4 separate regions of the Homo sapiens genome follow, and all the other regions are linked to region 1. Evidence: fine-mapped expression QTL. A gene starts in region 1. Each other region holds a variant in brackets. All regions are shown on one strand. Distances are between the middles of the regions.

Region 1 (4,160 bases):
TGTTCCATTTCTTCCACAGCCCGGAAGACAGAGGTGGACCCCATTGTCACACATGGCGGGGGCGGGGAGCTGACCACATTTAGCCAGACTCTGAGAACGCATGTGTGTATATATATTGGGTGTGTGTGTGCACACGCCCACCATTCTTAAAAAGCAAATAAGGTTTCTTCCCCCTACTGGGGTCTCTCCATTGTGAGAGATTTGCTTTATTCCATCTATGCTTTTCAATCAATCAAAGGGCAGCTCACACAGCACACAGCGGGAATACAATCTCCCTCCCGGGGTGTCTGCGCTTCTCCCCAGCCTAGCCAGAGACCTTTGCAGGAGCTGAAAAAAGTTTGGAAATAGCGGAGTCAGGGTGCTGAAAAAGCCCTTTCATTCAGCCCCTATCTTCAGGATTTACAAAAACAACCCAAATTCTGAGCCTAGCACTGAGGCCTCCTTGTTCAAAAGAATGTTTGCTCCTCTTCCATCATGTTCTGTAAGGCTCCTAACATATTTTTTCCACTGGTGGGTCTGTGGGATACTCTGAACACATGATCTTGGACAGAGGGTACAAGCTTATTCAGTTTTGTGGGAAAATGATATGATCATGTTGCCTAGAAAGCTACCTCAAAGTGACAGCACCAGAAACACAGGAGCTTGTACATATATATTCAATTCCGAATTTGATTTGGATCTCATGTTCTTCTCCCTATGACAACTGAGACCCTAAATTAGTTGCTCTTAGACCCCAAGAAGGGAACTATGGAAAAGCCTCTTAGAACCCCAGCCACTTCCTACCTCCTCCAGAAAAAGTTAAAATGAGCAGCCTGTGAAATTCCAGCCAGAGAGAACAAGAATGAAAATGCTTTCGGGAAATAGGACCTTAAAGCACGGGCGTCTGGGGAGTGATTCTACAATCGGAGCAGGCTTGGGCTCTGGGGGACGCTGGCAGACCCACGAATGCCTTGCCTTCTCCGGTGGGCAGTGCCGCCACGGTCGTGAGGGAGGGGAGCCTCCTCTTTTGGAGGACTATATCCCTCGTGCTTCCCCCTTCTAGTTCTCTTTCTCAGACACACACCACGAAAGGCATGTGACAGGTGTTCGCCAGCCGGAGGCACCGGGGAAGGCAGCCCCATGTGCCCAGGGAGGGTAGGGAGGTGAGAGGGGACCCAAGTCCTGTGTCTCCAAGTCCTGTCTGCTTGCTGCTAAGCAGGCACTGAGGCTGTGAATAAGGTCTTACCTTTTAAGGAGGATCTGACCCCCGTACCTTCCCTAGACAAGCAACATACGCGGCGATGCTTTAAGCCGCTTTCTGCCTGAAATCTCGGCGCATTCCCGGGGAAGCAGTGCCACGCTTCAGAAAGGCGTTTGTGCTGCCTCTTACTGGGGAAACGCAGTGTCTGTTTCATATGCGCCGCCCTACAGAACTGCAGCCCCAACCGCCTATCTGGCCTCCTCCCCGGGCGCTGGGCCACCACTCTCTCCAAATATGCGTCCGAATATCTGTGGGTCTGTCTCCCGTTGAAATCCCAGGGTGTCCAAAGGCCACGGGGCCGCGATGACACTGGGTAGGTCTCCGGAAACCTCTCAGGACTTCTCCCATTTTAAAGCCCAGCTAGGGACGAAAGGGGCTGGGAGCTGAAAAATTGCTCCCTCAACCTCCCCGGGTGGGAGGCAGAGCCGGGAATACACAGAATCCCACCCCGAAAGTCCCGGGAAAGAGAAGTCTGAGTCCAGGAGCGTGAGAGGAGAACACACCCGGGAAATCCCTGCTCCGGCCGCTGCACCTCCGCGGGCGTCCAGGTGGGACGTGGGCAGGTGCGCGAGCGCCGTGTGTGCCGGTGTGGATCTGTGTGTGTGCCTGCGTGTGTGCGTGTGCGTGTGCCGCGGGCTGGCTCCGGGACACTGAGGACTCCCGGGTCGGCCCAGGTCTGTCCGACCTTGCTGCCCTCGCCGCCCGCCCGGCCCCACTCCCCGGCGGGCCGGCTCCTTACCTGGACGCGCCGCGTTTCCCTCCTTCAGCGGGAGCGCCGCATTGACACTGCAGATGGAGCCTATGCCGCTGCCTCTCGCCCTCCTCTGAACGTGTGCGTGTGCGCGCGTGTGGCTGCCTCCTCCAGCCCCAGCCCCGAACGCAAATACTCCACCGAGGCACAGGGAAGCCGGGAGCAGCCGAGGAACGCGGAGGGCGCCGAATCAGAGCCTGCGGGGCTTGACAGCTTCTCTTGCGGCGTCCAAGGTGGGCGTAATGTCCAACAAAAAGGTCGGAAAATGGGGATCGATTCCGAACACCCCTTTCCTCCACCCAGCCCCGGAGCCCGAGCAGCGGCGGCGGCTCTCGGGGGCTGCGGTGGCGACGCCGGGCTGCCCCCCTTCGTCCCCACCCCCGCGGGCTGAATGTCCTTGATGCCAAGCGGGCACAGCGGCGTCACTCCGCGCCGCCCATGCTCGCCCGGTCGGGCCGCTGCCCGGGCGCGGCGAGTGCGCGGGGGACCCGCCGGGGAGCGCTCTCGGCGCCTCTGCGCGCCTCTCTGGGTAGCGGCGGCCGCCCCCCGGCAGCCCGCGGCCGGCCGCGCCGCGGCAGCCCCCACCCTTGCCGAGACACTCGCCGGGCAGTGCCCTGGGGCCGGGGCTGGGGGGCCGCGGGAGCCGCCGGCTGCTCCCCGGGGAGGCGCGGGGCTGCGGCGGTGGTGGCTGCGGCGGCTGGCGCTGCGGCGGCGGAGAGCTCGGCCGCGGGCCGAGCCGGGCCTCCCGGGCGCGCCCCCGGCCCCCCGGGCGGGCTGCTCGCAAAGTTTGCAGGGGGCAGGGAGCGGGGCCGCCGCTGGCTCGGCCGCCGCCGGAGCTCCCGGGCTGCCTGCTGCCGCCGCGGCTCGCTGCTGCTGTGCATTGAAGCCCGGCCAAGCGCTGCAAAAACTCCAGCTGCCTGGCGCTCTCTGGGTCCTCCTCTCCTCCCTCCCGCCCTCCCTGCTTCCCTTCCTCCCTCCCTCGCCTCGCCTCCTCTCCTCCCTGCCGCCCGCCGCCCGCCGCCGCTCCCTCTCTGGCTCGCTCTCGCTGGCTCGGAGCTCGCGGCTGACATCTAGAGCGAGGGAGAGCGGCCGGCAGAGGGGGCAGGGGGCGCCTCCCTACATGCTCCCACCCGCCGCCGCCCGGCTTGCCGGCTCTCCTCCGCACCAACGTTTGCCGACACCCCCCTGGGTCCCCTCGGCCCGCACGGAGCTACCCTGGCGGTGGCGATGTGGGGCGGAGAGAGGGGCATACATGGGTGACCGGAGCGCACGGCGCGCGCTCAGAGGGAGGCGCTCAGCCGCCTCGGAATTTGCAGCTCTGGGCGCTGGCCGTCGGAGGGACCCTCAGGTGCTCAGAGCTGACACAAGCGCACACTGACTCTGAGGCATACACCCATTGCTAGTCAGAACCCCTCCCAACACCCCACCAAGTCACCCCCACATGGCACCCAAGGAGGCCGAGGACACTGAGGGCACAAGGCCCGCACGAGAGAACATGAGTGGCCAGTGCCCCAGAGCTGGCTTGGTAACCTGACTTTTCCATTCATGTTTATACTGAGCGGCTCTCCTGGCTCCTCTCTTCTCTGAAACCCTAGATCCTAGACTACATCCAGAACAGACCATGCCAACATCAGGGTGGTTTCTGAAGCCCAAAGAAAGAAATCACCATGTAGCTCTGGTTTAGGCAGTGAAGATGGGGAGTGGGTGGCACTACCTCCCAAACCTCTGCCTAGATCCCCCTAGGAATGGGCCCACCCACCAAGAGAAACCGAAGGGATTCCCACACCTGTTAACTCAACTCTGTGCATGCCACCCTCATCCTCATACCCGCTCCCACCATAGTCTGAGGGAAGTGGCACCTTCAGCAGAGTCCAGTAAGCATTCCCTGGGATAGGCAACCAGCAAGGACGACCCTCTAAAGGAGCCCATGGCTCTTGGCCTCCTCTCTCCTGTCCCTTCTTTAGTTTTCACTGTCCTCACACCCAGAAACTCCCGCCCATTACTGTCCCTCCCATCGAAACATCTCAGAGCCTCCTTATTAGGTGGACATGACTGATAATGGCTTAAATGCCTATACCTCCCTATAGGGGTTATATTCTCACAGAAATCGAAGTTGTGTGAATTGGGGAGCCTTTGAAAGGAGCTGTGAGATGACAGCTTAAACAAGCC
Region 2 (4,160 bases), 150 kb before region 1:
CCAGAATATCAGTCACATGTATGCCCATCCAGCTTTTCTAGAGATGGTCATGAAGCCAAAGAGGGGAAGTGACATCCTTAATAAAAGCTCATTTCAGCAAAAAAGCTGAGGAATCTGTTTAATTGATCATCACTCCTCCCTTCCACAACAGCACAGGGTTTTAAATGGGACTGGGCTCCCTGTCTGGAATTCTACTCCTCCCTGAAATGATCCGATAACAACAGAGCTGATTGTGACTGGTCCTCCCTCCCCTTCTCTCTCCTGCAGAATGTTTTTCTTCATCCCTGTTTTGTGTCTTCGTAATTGCGTTACTCACATAGCAACACATGGGGATGGCCACACTACAGCCACCACCATCGGGGCCACAAGGAGAAAGCAACAGCATTCTAGGAGAACGCACCACTCCCCATCAGGCCCCCTTGAACCAGGCGGGGCTGCATGGAGGTCAATGCCTCTCAGGGCTGCCCTCCCCTCTGGATCAGCTCCCAGAACATGCCCTTTGCCTCTAACCACGAGCAGGGGTCACCTGAGGCCCTTGATTCTAGCCCCACTTTAGCTTTCCCACAGAGAAGGCTGAGACGTTGAAAGGCATGAGCCCACGCCTCCTCCTCGCCAGGGTCTCAGTGACTCCCCAGCCCCAGGAAGAGGAGCAGGGAGCCCCTCACCCAACATCAGGCCCATGTCTTGGAAACGCAGGGGTTGTGGATTCACATGCTGGTGCTGCTGGTCTGCCCCCCGCTCCCTGGCCTGGGTTTTGCTCCATCTCTGAGCAACTTTTGGAAAAGAGGCAGATCTAGGAAATCCATACCAAGTCCCAATATACTCTATGGCTGAAGGGGCTGAGGAGGGAGCTCAGCTGGAGAGCCCTGGCCCAGGCCCACAAGACAGTAGAGGGGGCACTGCTCCTTGTGGACGTCCAACCAGGCTGATGTCGTCTTCATCCTTCTGTAGGGACCAAAATCTTGGTGGAACCCCCACCCTTCCTGGCAAGTCAGGAGGTCAGTAGAACCCCCCAGGCCAGCATTCCTTTCCCAGCCTCATTCCTGCCCAGGGCTCCCTGTGACCTGCCCCTCCCCCATGTGAGGACACTATACACCCTGGATACTGTCCCCTTTCCATTCCATTTGTAATTGTCCCTGGCAGAAACAGCCTCCCTCAAATGGTGAATTCTCACATAAATGTTTGGGGTGATGCATATCCCAGTTACCCAGATCTGATGGTTACACATTACATACATGTACCAAAACATCACATTATATAATCAATAACAATTTTATACATAAATAAATAGGAAAAAAACGAGGTTCTGCTAGCGTGTGGTTTGGCAGCTGTCAAATCTTGTGCTAGAGCCGAGTCCTGACCATGGTGTGCCCTCCACGCATCGTCCAGCTCACCCATCCTCCCAGGAAGGCCACCCCTCTGCTGGGTGTCAGCATCACGGCACCTGGGTGGGTGAGCCGCTCACTGCCCCGCCCTACCCCAGCTGCCCTCTCTAGCCCCACTGTGCCACGTCCCCTTGGCAAGGCCACTGTCTGGAGTCTGGAACACAGAAAACCATTCCTGGACCCTCCGCACTGCCAAGTCTGTAAAAGAGCAGGCGCCTAGCCTCTCTCCTTGGAGGCTCAGGCCATGTCAATCTCTTCTACGTCTCCCTAGTGCCAAGATAATAAGGGGGAAAGTTTTTTTCTCCTCCTTCCAGAGTGCAGACCAATTAGCATTTTTTAAATTACCATTGGAGAAATACACCTAATTAGCCACTTTAAAGGAAAGCTTTAAAAAAAAAAGTCATAAATTTCTAACTGGCCACAGCTTGGAGACACTTTTAAAGCTAATTGTGTGTTTCTGGCACTGACAGGGGAATTGGTGAAAGTAAGAGACCGATTTTATGACCTTGGTGGGAAAGGGGAGGGGAAGGCTGAATGACGTCCTTAGGCCAAGAAAGGGTTAATGTCTGTCTCC[C/T]GGAACCCCAGGCCCCTCCTGGCTCCTCCTCCCCTTCCTCACCCTCCCTCATCAGATCCCCACCTCTCCCCACCTTGAGCCCTGCCTTACCCCAGTCAGGGGTACCTGCCTTAGAAGAGGCAGACAGGAAGGCAGACAGGCAGGCAGGCAGACAGGGCCACACACTCAGCCAGAAAATCATACAAGGAGGAAGAAAAGGGCAGAGGACAAAGAGAGAGGAGAAGGACAGGGGAAACAGAGAAGAAAGAAACATTTGAGGAAACTGAGAGAAAGGAACCAAAGCCAAATTCCAGAAGGCTGTTTCTCATTTGTGCTTCCTATTAAACTCTCCATCGAGGTGGGGGCGGGAGCTGGGGGCTCTGGCCTGCTCTTGAACATGGTGCCTCCCTCAGACAGTTCCAGTGGAGGCAGACAGGGGCTTCTGCAGCCCTCGGGCCTCCTGCCCAGGCTCCCTGACCCTGCTCAGTGGCCCCAACTCCCTGTCCCTGAAACTGAGAAAACTCTTCATAAAGTGCAGGCACAGGACTCTGGGGTGCCTCATTTAGGAGGAAGGTGGCACAGGGCAGTTTCTGGTTGCTCCCAGCCTCTGCCACTGCTGTGGATTCATTCCTGCCTCAGAAAAGGGGAAAGAGGGCCTCTCCCAGGGGGAGATCAGTGTACAACTGGAGGAGTGTCAAGAAGTGCGGCCAAGCAAGAGAAGATGCCCAGAGCAACTGCACAGGGCCTCCATCATCCTGCAGAGCCCACCGCCATGGCTCATCAGCCCTTCAATGGCCCCCGGTGATGACCCAGTAGAGCGGCTAAGGTGATGGGGGTGGGGGTCCTCTCCCTCAGGAACACCCCTCCACTGGCTGGGTTGCCGGGCAGGAGTTAGGGTAGGAACAGGACAGTATAGATGTATTGTCTCCACCTCTGTCTGAGGCACACAGTGTGACCAGCGCTGTCATGTCTGCCCAACCCTAGCTCAGTGTCATGCCCACCTGACACTAGGTGTGGCCTCCCTGTTGGTTGAAGGGGCAGCAGCAGGTGTTTGCATTCTATACATGGAAACTTAGAGGCCCAGAAACACTGAGGCAAATTTGCTCTAGTAGCAGATTTAGTACCATCTAAAGTCCTGGGAGGCACATTCTTCATTCACTGAGACCCTCCTTTCTATAGCTTAAGTGAGAGTCTGGAGAAATTACAGACAGTTTCAAAACATATAGTCTTCTGGAAAGCCCAGAACATGCATTCTCAATGGGTACAAGAGTGCTCCCCAGAGGGTGAAAATTAGAGGGCAAAAGAAAAAAAAATCTTAGATATAATGATTTGTGGCCCTCCAAAGGTCAACATTACTCAATAAATTCACATGTCGTCTCATTAAAGAGAATTTAAATTAAATTTAACTTGTCTCTAAGGGGGAAAAGGTGATTTTTAAAAAGCTGAGAAATGCTGACCTAGGGCAGTAGCCCCTAGAGTCCTAGAGTCCCACAGGCCAGAGCTGGATCCACTCACCTGTACCCCCTTGGGACCAAGCTCAGCATATGAAACAAGAAATGGGGCCCAGGAGGGGATTCTTCCCCAGAACTAGTCAGTGACTCCTACTGAAGACACTCACAAACTTTAAAAGTGGTGGGAGACTTGAGCAACCTAGCAGGGCAACTGGGTAAGACACTGCAATGCTGTCTCTTCTGCCAGGGCAGAGGGAAGAGCTTCTGGGAGACAAAAGACCTTGGGGCCTCTTCCTGCTCCTCACCCCAGACCTTAAAGCCTTCAGAGAAATGGCGCACTGGACGTCTGAGCTCCAGGAGGTTGACTGAGGGCAGGATTGGAGTGCAGGGCTGGAAGGATTCATGACCTTAAAAACAGCCAGGGGAGCTGGGGTGCCCCAAGTAGAAGACTAGGGTCTACAGCGCCCCATCAGAGCCCCTCACACTCTTCCTTTTTTCCTCCCCTCTCTGGTTCCAGAGGCTGGGAAAGAGGGAAGAGAAATAACTACACAGCAGAATGGACAGGCCCCCACCCACCCAGTCATAAACTCATGGGTGACAATTGTGGGGGCCCTCACCTCCACCCCTAAAAGAATTGAACCTGGGCTAGCTCCTCTAAGCGAGTAGTACAGCTTTCAGCCTAACAAGTATCCATCTTTACTGGCAGCTTCAGGGGCTGGTGGAAAGAGCTCTGGGGTCAGACCTGCTGGGCTTTGCACACCAGCAAGTCAT
Region 3 (4,160 bases), 180 kb after region 1:
CTACTACGGTCATCATAACTTGCATATTTCACTTAGGATTTCCCTTCATCCTGGCAGCAGTGAGTGCTTCCGCCAGAGCCCAGCTTTCTCAGGTAGTCACCACACTGGAGGCTCCCAAGGCCCATCACATGGGGAGCTTCTGTGACGCCTGCTGCTAAAAGCCTGTGTTCCAAGAACTGTTTCCTAGATTCTCATGTTCAATCTAGTTTCTCTGTCTATGGTCAGTTAGCTTCGGCACATAAGCCAGCATTTAAAAGGCGTTCAGGTGGTAAATGATTCTACCCACCTGTGTAATTGAAGAAACAGTCATCTCAGTCATCCGCAAGATCACCCTCAATTCTGACGCCAACTGTAAGGTTTGACGGGTTCTCAAGACTACCCATAGGTTTGATAATTTACTAGACAGACTCATGGAACTCACTAAAAGCTGTTATACTCACAATTATGGTTTATTACAGCTACAGGATACAGATTAAAATTAGCCAAGGGAAGATGCACAAGGCATGAGGACTCTTCCAGCCCCAGCTTATCATCTGCCCAGGTCCTCCAGCAAATTCCCTTTCTCCACAAGGAACAGGGCACATGGCCAGGGTCCTTCTCAGCTCTCTTCCCTCCATCTCCCATCTTGCTAAGACAGGACCTGTCCCAAGTCTCGCCCTCCCAGGGTCCTGGTAGGGAAGTAGCAAATTCACTTTGTAGAAGGAACTAAGGCATTACAACTAATAACATTGCCAGATGGCATTTGCCCTTTAACAAGGCTCCGAGACCTGACCTCAAAAGAGACCAGTGGCAGAAGAGATGCTTCTGCTTTCATAGGGAGTTACCTGGTGCCAACCCCACCCACAGAAGCAAAGAGAAGGAACTAAGGCGTTACAACAAATAATGTTGCCAGATGGCATTTGCCCTTTAACAAGGCTCCAAGACCTGACCTCGAAAGAGACCAGTGGCAGAAGAGATGCTTCTGCTTTCACAGGGAGTTACCAGGTGCCAACCCTGCCCACAGAAGAAAAGAGACCCCAAGAAATTGGCCAGCCCAACAGCTTTATGCCATCTGAACCCTGCAAAAGTCACAGAGATGTAAAACAAGCTGAAGAGATTCCATAAGTCACCTGGGGGGGTGCCATGCTCCAGACATTGCAGAGTCTGGTTCTAGAGGCCTGGAGAGGCCCATTGCCTCTGCTTCACCTCTGCCTTACCTTGCCTCAGCCATTTTCCCCAGTAGCAAAAGGGCCCTTCTGCCCTCTGCTCCCAAAGAACCTGCCTGAGCAGGCCCAGACCCTGTGTTCTCCAGCCCAGCATTACCCTGGGAAGTTCGATGGGGGAGGCAGGGACTTCATCTTTTTCATCTCCAAGTGCCACAGTGCCCTGTGGATAACAATGGCATCCACAGTGCTTAGTGGACAAGAATGGCATTGCCAGCTCCCCACAGCTGCACCAGCCCTGGCTCTGATCCCAGGCTGCAAAAAAAAAAAAAAAAAAAAAAAAAAAAAAAGGCAGGCAGGCCACTAGCACTCACTTATTTCCCAAGGATTAGGTCAGCCCCACACACAGTGTCTTCCAGACACTGGGAGAGGCCAGGTGCAGACCGCCAGAGATTCAGTGTAAAGCCTGCCAATCGGCCAATACCAGATGTTCAAGATGAAAATCTCATCTTCCCAAATGCTGAAGGGGTCCAGTGGATCAGGGACACTTGTCCCCAGGGTGTCCTGGCAGCTGAACTCAGCACCTTCTCTCCCACCTGTTAGCCATGAGGGCAGAGACACCTAGTATCCAAGGGCCAGGAGACACAGCACAGGAGTGGAATGCACTCGACACAGACGATTACCTTTCAAACGCTCCTCCTTCAACATCAGAACAAAGACTAGCCCAGTGGCCCAGACTTCCCTTACCACTTCCTTTATTTAGGAGGCCATGAACCCAGTCCTTCTTCTCAGCCCTGCCTCTGGGTTCAGGAACCAAGGCTAGACCTGCTTGTAGCTAATATGTGCCATGTGGCTTTTCATCTCAACTTTGTCACTTATTGTCTGTGACCTTGAGCCTTTTAAACTCTCCTCTGCCGATTACTCCTCTCTGAAATGGGAGTAAACTAACTTCCCAGAGAAGTCCTGTGGAGGAGTGAGGTGACACATGCCAAGAAGAGACAGGAACACCTGGAGATGCAGCAAACACTATTTTTATTTCATACCTGAAAGCAACAGTCTCTCTATGGAGT[C/T]GGCTGTGTTGGCTTTTACGCCCATAATGTTTGTGGTCGGATCATGTCTGTATTTAAACTAAACACAGTATTTAAGCCACCAGAAATAAGAAAACAAAGAGGAGAAAATTCCATCACATAGGTTTTTTTTTTTACTTCAGTCTATTCATCCAGATGGTGATAATTAGTGGGCTCGCCTGTCTGCACCTGTCATTGTTTATGTACGCGTTCTACCTATAGGAATGTGCGGGGAACTTTCTAGACGCATGAAGAGTGATGCTGTGGAATCTGATACAGCCTACAGTTCTAGGATTCACCCTTGGTTCTTTTGCAGAGTCAAGAATAGTCTTGGTGCTAGAGGGACCAAGCCAGCAAAGATTTGCACTGCCAGCCAAGGGACTTATTTCCCTGCCTCCAACAGTTTTGCCGTCACTAAAGCTGCTACACATGCTGAGCTTAAATGCCTGCTTATAGCAAAAGCAGCCATGTCAGTCACTTAATGTTTCTTAAGAATCCCTGTCTTTGTCCATTTTGTTTTGCTATTAAAAGAAAAAAAAAAACCTGCCACTGGATAATTTATAAAGAAAAGAGGTTTATTTAGTTCAGGGTTCTGCAGGCTGAGAAGTTCAAGGGCATGGCCCTGGCTTCTGGCGAGGGCTTTCCTGCTGCATTGACACAGGGAGAAAGGTCAAAGGGGAAGTGAATATGTGCGGAGAGGGGGAATCCTGAGGGGTCTCCAGCTATATAACAACCCACTCTCATGGGAACAAATCCACTCCTGTAAGAACAGCTCACTACTGCCTGAACAGCACCACATCATTCATGCGAGATCCCTCCCCATGACCCAAACACCTCCTGCCAGGCCCCACCTCCCAACATCACCACACCGGGGATCAAATTTCAACTTGAGTTTTGGTGGGGACAAACAAACCACATCCAAACCACTGCAAATCCCATACATACCAGGGCTCCACTCCAGACCCACTGAATTGAATCCTTTGGGGATGGTGCCTGAAAAAAATATATTTTAAACACCCAAGGGGTTCTGACACTTGGTTGAGTTTGGGATCTTCTGGACTGGAAGGAACTCTCAGGCTTTGAGTGGAGACCTTGGATCTGTTCCAGGTTTTGCCAATAACTTTCTGTTGTCCCTGCGTGACTTTGGGCACGTCACTTTCCTGTGTACTGTCTCTAAGAATGTTGGATTCTGATAAGTCAATTCCCACTTGTGTCCCTGGAGCCCTAGGGTTTCCTCGGAGGCTCCAGAAGTTTCTAAGGGGTCAGTAGAATGAAGACAGTAGGTTGGGCTCTGGATTCCCTGCCTCGAGAGTTAATCCTAGGAGCTGCTAAAGGTCTATTTACAAAGCTTCACATGAAGCCAGATCAACATCTGGGAACATCTGCCTGGGATGCAGGACATGGGCAGCCCCAGAACTAGTTTCAGGTGGCTTACATGGGCATGGTTATTGCAGAAATCACATTTTAAAAGTGTTAATCTCATCAAGAGACTTGGACTGTGGCATCTTTATTTCTGTGAGTTGTGACTTTCTCGTCCTTGGAAGTAAGGAGTGAACTAGACTCCACAAACGAGTTTAACATTTTGCCCTTCTAATTGTCTACACCAAATCCATGCCTCCCTCCCCTGTGAGCAGACTTTGGTAGAATGTTCCTCATGCCTTCAACCAGGGTGAGCCAGACGAGCCCCGGGGAACACGATGCATGACCTTGGCCTTGTTACCATGTGCAATGTATTGAATTGCAGACCTCCAAAATTTATATATTGAAGCCCTAGTCCCAGTATGACTGTACTTGGAGAGCCTTTATGGAGGTGACTAAGGTTAAGTGAGGTCATAAAGGCGGAGTTCTAATTTAATAGGATTGGCGCCCTTATAAGAAGAGGAAGAGAGAGATCGCTTTCCACTGAAATGTACCGAGGAAAGGCTATGTGAGGACATAGCCCAGAAGAGGC
Region 4 (4,160 bases), 91 kb before region 1:
TGTGAGCCCAGCAGTAAAAGGACCACTTATGGTTGGGGGCTCATTCCCTCTTCTTGCCTCTGCCTCCTCCCTCTTCCTCTGTACATCATGTCTTTCATCCTTTCCCATCTTTGTTGTCTTGGTTACATGGCCAGACTCCTAATATGCTGCTAGTTTTCATTTTAATGATATGTTTTTGTAAAGCACAATATTTTACTTCAATTGCATGTGTCACTGGATAAATTCCTCTAGTGCGTCTGACATTTGTGTATCAGCTGACTGAATGCGCTCTATGATTTGGGGTGTTTGTGCAGCACTTTCTTCAATTTTAATGTGTTTGCATTTTAATTTATGATCAGGATCTTTCTATACCAATGTGTGTATATATACACACATATGATTCAAAAAAGTGGCACACGTATCAATAAATCTTGAATTGGCAAAGCTCATTTAAGACTATCTCTTTAAATCATGTGCACTAGCAATGATCACTTGGAAAACAGAATGACAAGTGTTCCTGAGAAACTCTTTGCTGGGATTTCAATGTGTGTTTCAGGAGGAAGTCAGGAGGAGAATGCAACAATGCCTAGCTATTGGCTGCAGTAGAAATTTCACGATGAGAACACCTCCCCGGGTTTATTCAGGTCAGCAAGGAGGGACCACTTGAGATCCCCCAGGGATGTGCAGGGAAGGTGGGTGGGCCCAAGGGCAGAATAGTGAGAAATGGAAAAAGATAAGAAAAGAGGGCCAGTGTGGCCACACTTACATCAAAAGGGTGATTGAGTGAGGGCTTAATAGTGTTCAAGAATATAAAATATGTCCAAGAGGATATCAACCAGCTTAGTTGCTCTTTTAGTCAACTGAGTAAAACTTGGGAAGAAAGCTTAAAACATAGCAGAAGAGATTGAAACAAGGTGGGAGGAAGGCCCATGAGAAGTGGATACATTGGTCTGAGGCAAGATCAGTCTGAAGGGCCAGTCTTAGAATTCCCAGGCTGGAAAGACTAACGACAGAATGCCGTCTGTCTGTGGTTGAACGTGAAATCAGAGGAGGGAGGGTGGCACGCTGGCACACCTGTGGGATCTTCTGCCTGGAGCCCTTCAACCTCAGCCTCCCCTTCACACAACCCACAGGGTAAGGTCTATGCAGGTTTAATATTTGCAAAACCAGGGATGGAAAATGCAGACACAATATAGCAAATAGAGGGTCTTTTCCTGTCATGGAAATCGGTCAGCCCTGATGCTTCTGCATTTCTTTCCCTTTGTGCTTGTGATCAATCACACATGAACCCATGGCAGCTTGGGCTGGAGAAACATATAGCACAACAGAACTACCTGACCGAACCCTGTATCAAATACATATGCCCTCTGCCCTAACCACATGTTCCTAGTCTATTTGGTGTTCCAACATTGTATCTCCATTTGATTTCCTGACACTTCCATCCATCTGCAGGGCTTTCTGTGCTATGAATATTTATTTTTAGTTAAAGTGGATTCAAATTTCCAGAGTAATTTTAGGAAGAATTCCCAGGTACATTTAGGAAGCAACAAAGCAGAGGCTGGACTCTCTGATCTGATATTGCTTTGTGACTTGAGCACTGAAGATACACACACAGCATCTGTTCCTGAGAAGCAATGTTCGCCCCAGGTGGGTCTCCCTCCACTCCAATCCACTCCTGGGTGATTCCCCCTTGTGGACCTGTGCCGAAGGACTAGGGAACAAAAGCAAATTAATTTTAAAACAGGCTTGAGAAAAAAAAATTAGGAAGATTAAATTAATCTACATGACAATTCCCAATAAGAATGGTTTTTGTACTATATACTCCTATTGCCTCTTCATGGGAATGTGCACCCAGTACCTATTCAGAGAGGCTGGTATGGATTAGTCTGTGCACAGACACATGGATGCATGTCCCGCAACAGGCTAATAGCAGGGCCAGCCAGAGTTCCGCTTAACCAACATCCATACAGCGCTCCACCCCCTTAGGTGTGAACAGTTTAACCTAGCAAAAACATCCAGGGAAGACGCAATCACCAGCGAGAGGAGCAATCACACCTCAAGTGGAAGTTTATGATGTTTTGGTTCACAATGAACATTAGTCTCTCCCACTAATGTCAGGCAGTAATTCACCACTGAACAGCAGCCATAAAAATGATCGCTTAGTGAAAGGAAAGCAAGAGGCAGAGAAAGCAAGAGAGGGAAAAGATTCCAGCAGAAATATTCAAGCAAAGAAATCTCGTGCTTCTGAGACAACACTGAGCTGATTGTCCCAACTCAAGCCAAAGATTTAGGTTTGCTTGGCCCTAAAGCCAGTCAAGATGGCATTTGCCTTA[T/C]GATTTTTACCTATAGTGGAAATGTTAACAGTCTGTAGGTTATTGCTAAGTTCCTAGACACCTGCTTATGACTGTAGTATTTATAGGTCATATTTCTTAACACACATACCCTTAAAGCTCACCACAGGAAGAGGCTGCCAATACCATCTGCAACACACACACATCAGAAAACATCAAAGACATCTAAATTGGCACTTTCCTCACCTCCTTTCCCCCCGCTTCATGTGACGTGTGCACTAAAGGAGTGAAATTACGGTCGTCAAAGACAAGGTTGCAAATGATTGGGACTCATGCCTTTCAAGCAAAATAAAAAGTAATTTTGAGAGCAGCCCACGGATAGCTCGGTCTAGCTCCTGGACCCCTGAAACCCACAGCAAACACCCTTACTCTTAGCATCCCCCCAAGCTCTCTCCTGCCCACCTACCCCCATTTCCAGTCTCTTGTCATACCGTAAAGAACTCTGAAAGGTCCTTGATACACACAGGAGATTATTACAGGGCTCAGAGAAACCAACTCTGTAATTATGGCTACAGTATGATTTCCATTATTCTCACGCCCTGGCCTCAGTCACTTGCAAAACTTCCAGCAAAATCCTCCTGCAGCTCCACAACTTGTCACGGCTGGGCCTCTGCCCAAAAGGTGACTGTGGTCCTGATAACCTCTGGGAAAAGCAAGTCAGAATTATTACAAGGAAAGGGGAGTGGTGCTTAGTGAGTGAGTGGGGGTGGGGAATTCTATTGTTCAAGAAAAAATAAATAAATGGGCCACTTTTGCTTTTTATTATTTCAAACAACAGACTCGGCAGCCCAGCCTTCCTTTCCCAACTCAGACTGTTCCCCTGGGCCAGCTGTGCTGAGTCTGCAGGCACGGGAGCCGGGCTTGAGCAAAACCATTAAAAGGCTGCCACTCCAAGCCTGCAGAGCAGAAAGTTTGGCCGCCCCAGTGGCCTGGCTTTCCCCGGGAGGACCGAAGGCTCATTCCCCCCAACTGACCCTTGCGCTCTTACCTTTCAAATGTTTATGCCTCACCAGCCCCACCACTGCTCTGGAAATTAGATAGAATATCCCAGGTGGCTGAAACAGAACTGTTCTTATATCAACCTACCAAAGTAAAAGATGGGAATGCCGGCCGCGGTTTATGAAGCCCCAGCCTCTTGGTGGGGTATTGCCTGTGTCACCTGTCACTGCCTGCCTGACCGACTGCTGGACTCTGTCCTTACCTGCCTCAGGAGGGTTGTCTCTGAGCGCCTTGCTGGCCCAGGCTCCTGGGGGTGTCCTGATCCCAAACTCATGGTGCTGCACTTGACCTCCCTGTCGGGGAACAGATTTGGACAGGCTTCCACAGGCAAGAGAGTACCAGTCACCAAATGCCTCAACCCACCCTTGGACAAACAGCACAAAAATGCAAGTTGACTATCTTGGGTTTACAATGCAGCCATGGTCAGGAAACACCTTCCTTTTTCCAAGAGAAAATAACTGTTTTGTTATGTGCACTGAACTCTCAATGTTCATTTCATTGATAACATTCACTGCCCAACCAGCTCAGACAATCACACACACACACAAATCCTCATCCAGGGTCTACTCCATCCTGCCAGCTAGTAAATGGTCCTCTGGCAGCTGGTAGGAAATTCAGCGGGTAAGACTCTTTTAGGGCAAGGCAGGAAGTTACTTCTACATTGCACTGAGATTGAGCTCACCGGAGAAAAGAGTTAAAGCATCCCCCATACTGCTTGCTGACTTATTTACTCTTAATGGTGCTCATTCACCCATTGCAGCAGGTGAAGCAGGTCTCAGTGCATGAATTGTACACAGTAATGCCCCCGGTATTTAGAATTCACTTTTCCAG

The links. PIP is the estimated chance that this variant, and not a neighbour inherited with it, causes the effect.
Region 2: its variant is the best candidate, but not a certain one, in a credible set for the expression of PLXNA4 in whole blood (TOPMed, PIP 0.65).
Region 3: its variant is the best candidate, but not a certain one, in a credible set for the expression of PLXNA4 in whole blood (INTERVAL, PIP 0.86).
Region 4: its variant is the best candidate, but not a certain one, in a credible set for the expression of PLXNA4 in whole blood (INTERVAL, PIP 0.89).

What each region holds. Positions count from the first base shown.
Region 1 is chr7:132,574,443-132,578,602 of GRCh38, forward strand. PLXNA4 (plexin A4) reads right to left here and starts at 2,028. Exons shown (of 32, transcript NM_020911.2): 1 at 1,980-2,028. RefSeq lists enhancers at 512-1,489, 1,490-2,467.
Region 2 is chr7:132,423,522-132,427,681 of GRCh38, forward strand. The region is part of intron 3 of PLXNA4 (plexin A4); the gene reads right to left. Among named protein-coding and RNA genes, the nearest start is that of PLXNA4-AS1, 73 kb to the left of the region's middle. RefSeq lists an enhancer at 2,175-2,872. The variant C/T (reference allele first, on the strand shown) is at 1,960.
Region 3 is chr7:132,754,897-132,759,056 of GRCh38, forward strand. LOC100506937 (a long non-coding RNA gene) reads left to right here and starts at 4,074. Exons shown (of 2, transcript NR_134332.1): 1 at 4,074-4,160. RefSeq lists an enhancer at 4,123-4,160. The variant C/T (reference allele first, on the strand shown) is at 2,213.
Region 4 is chr7:132,483,324-132,487,483 of GRCh38, forward strand. All of the region lies in intron 3 of PLXNA4 (plexin A4), which reads right to left. Among named protein-coding and RNA genes, the nearest start is that of PLXNA4, 91 kb to the right of the region's middle. The variant T/C (reference allele first, on the strand shown) is at 2,313.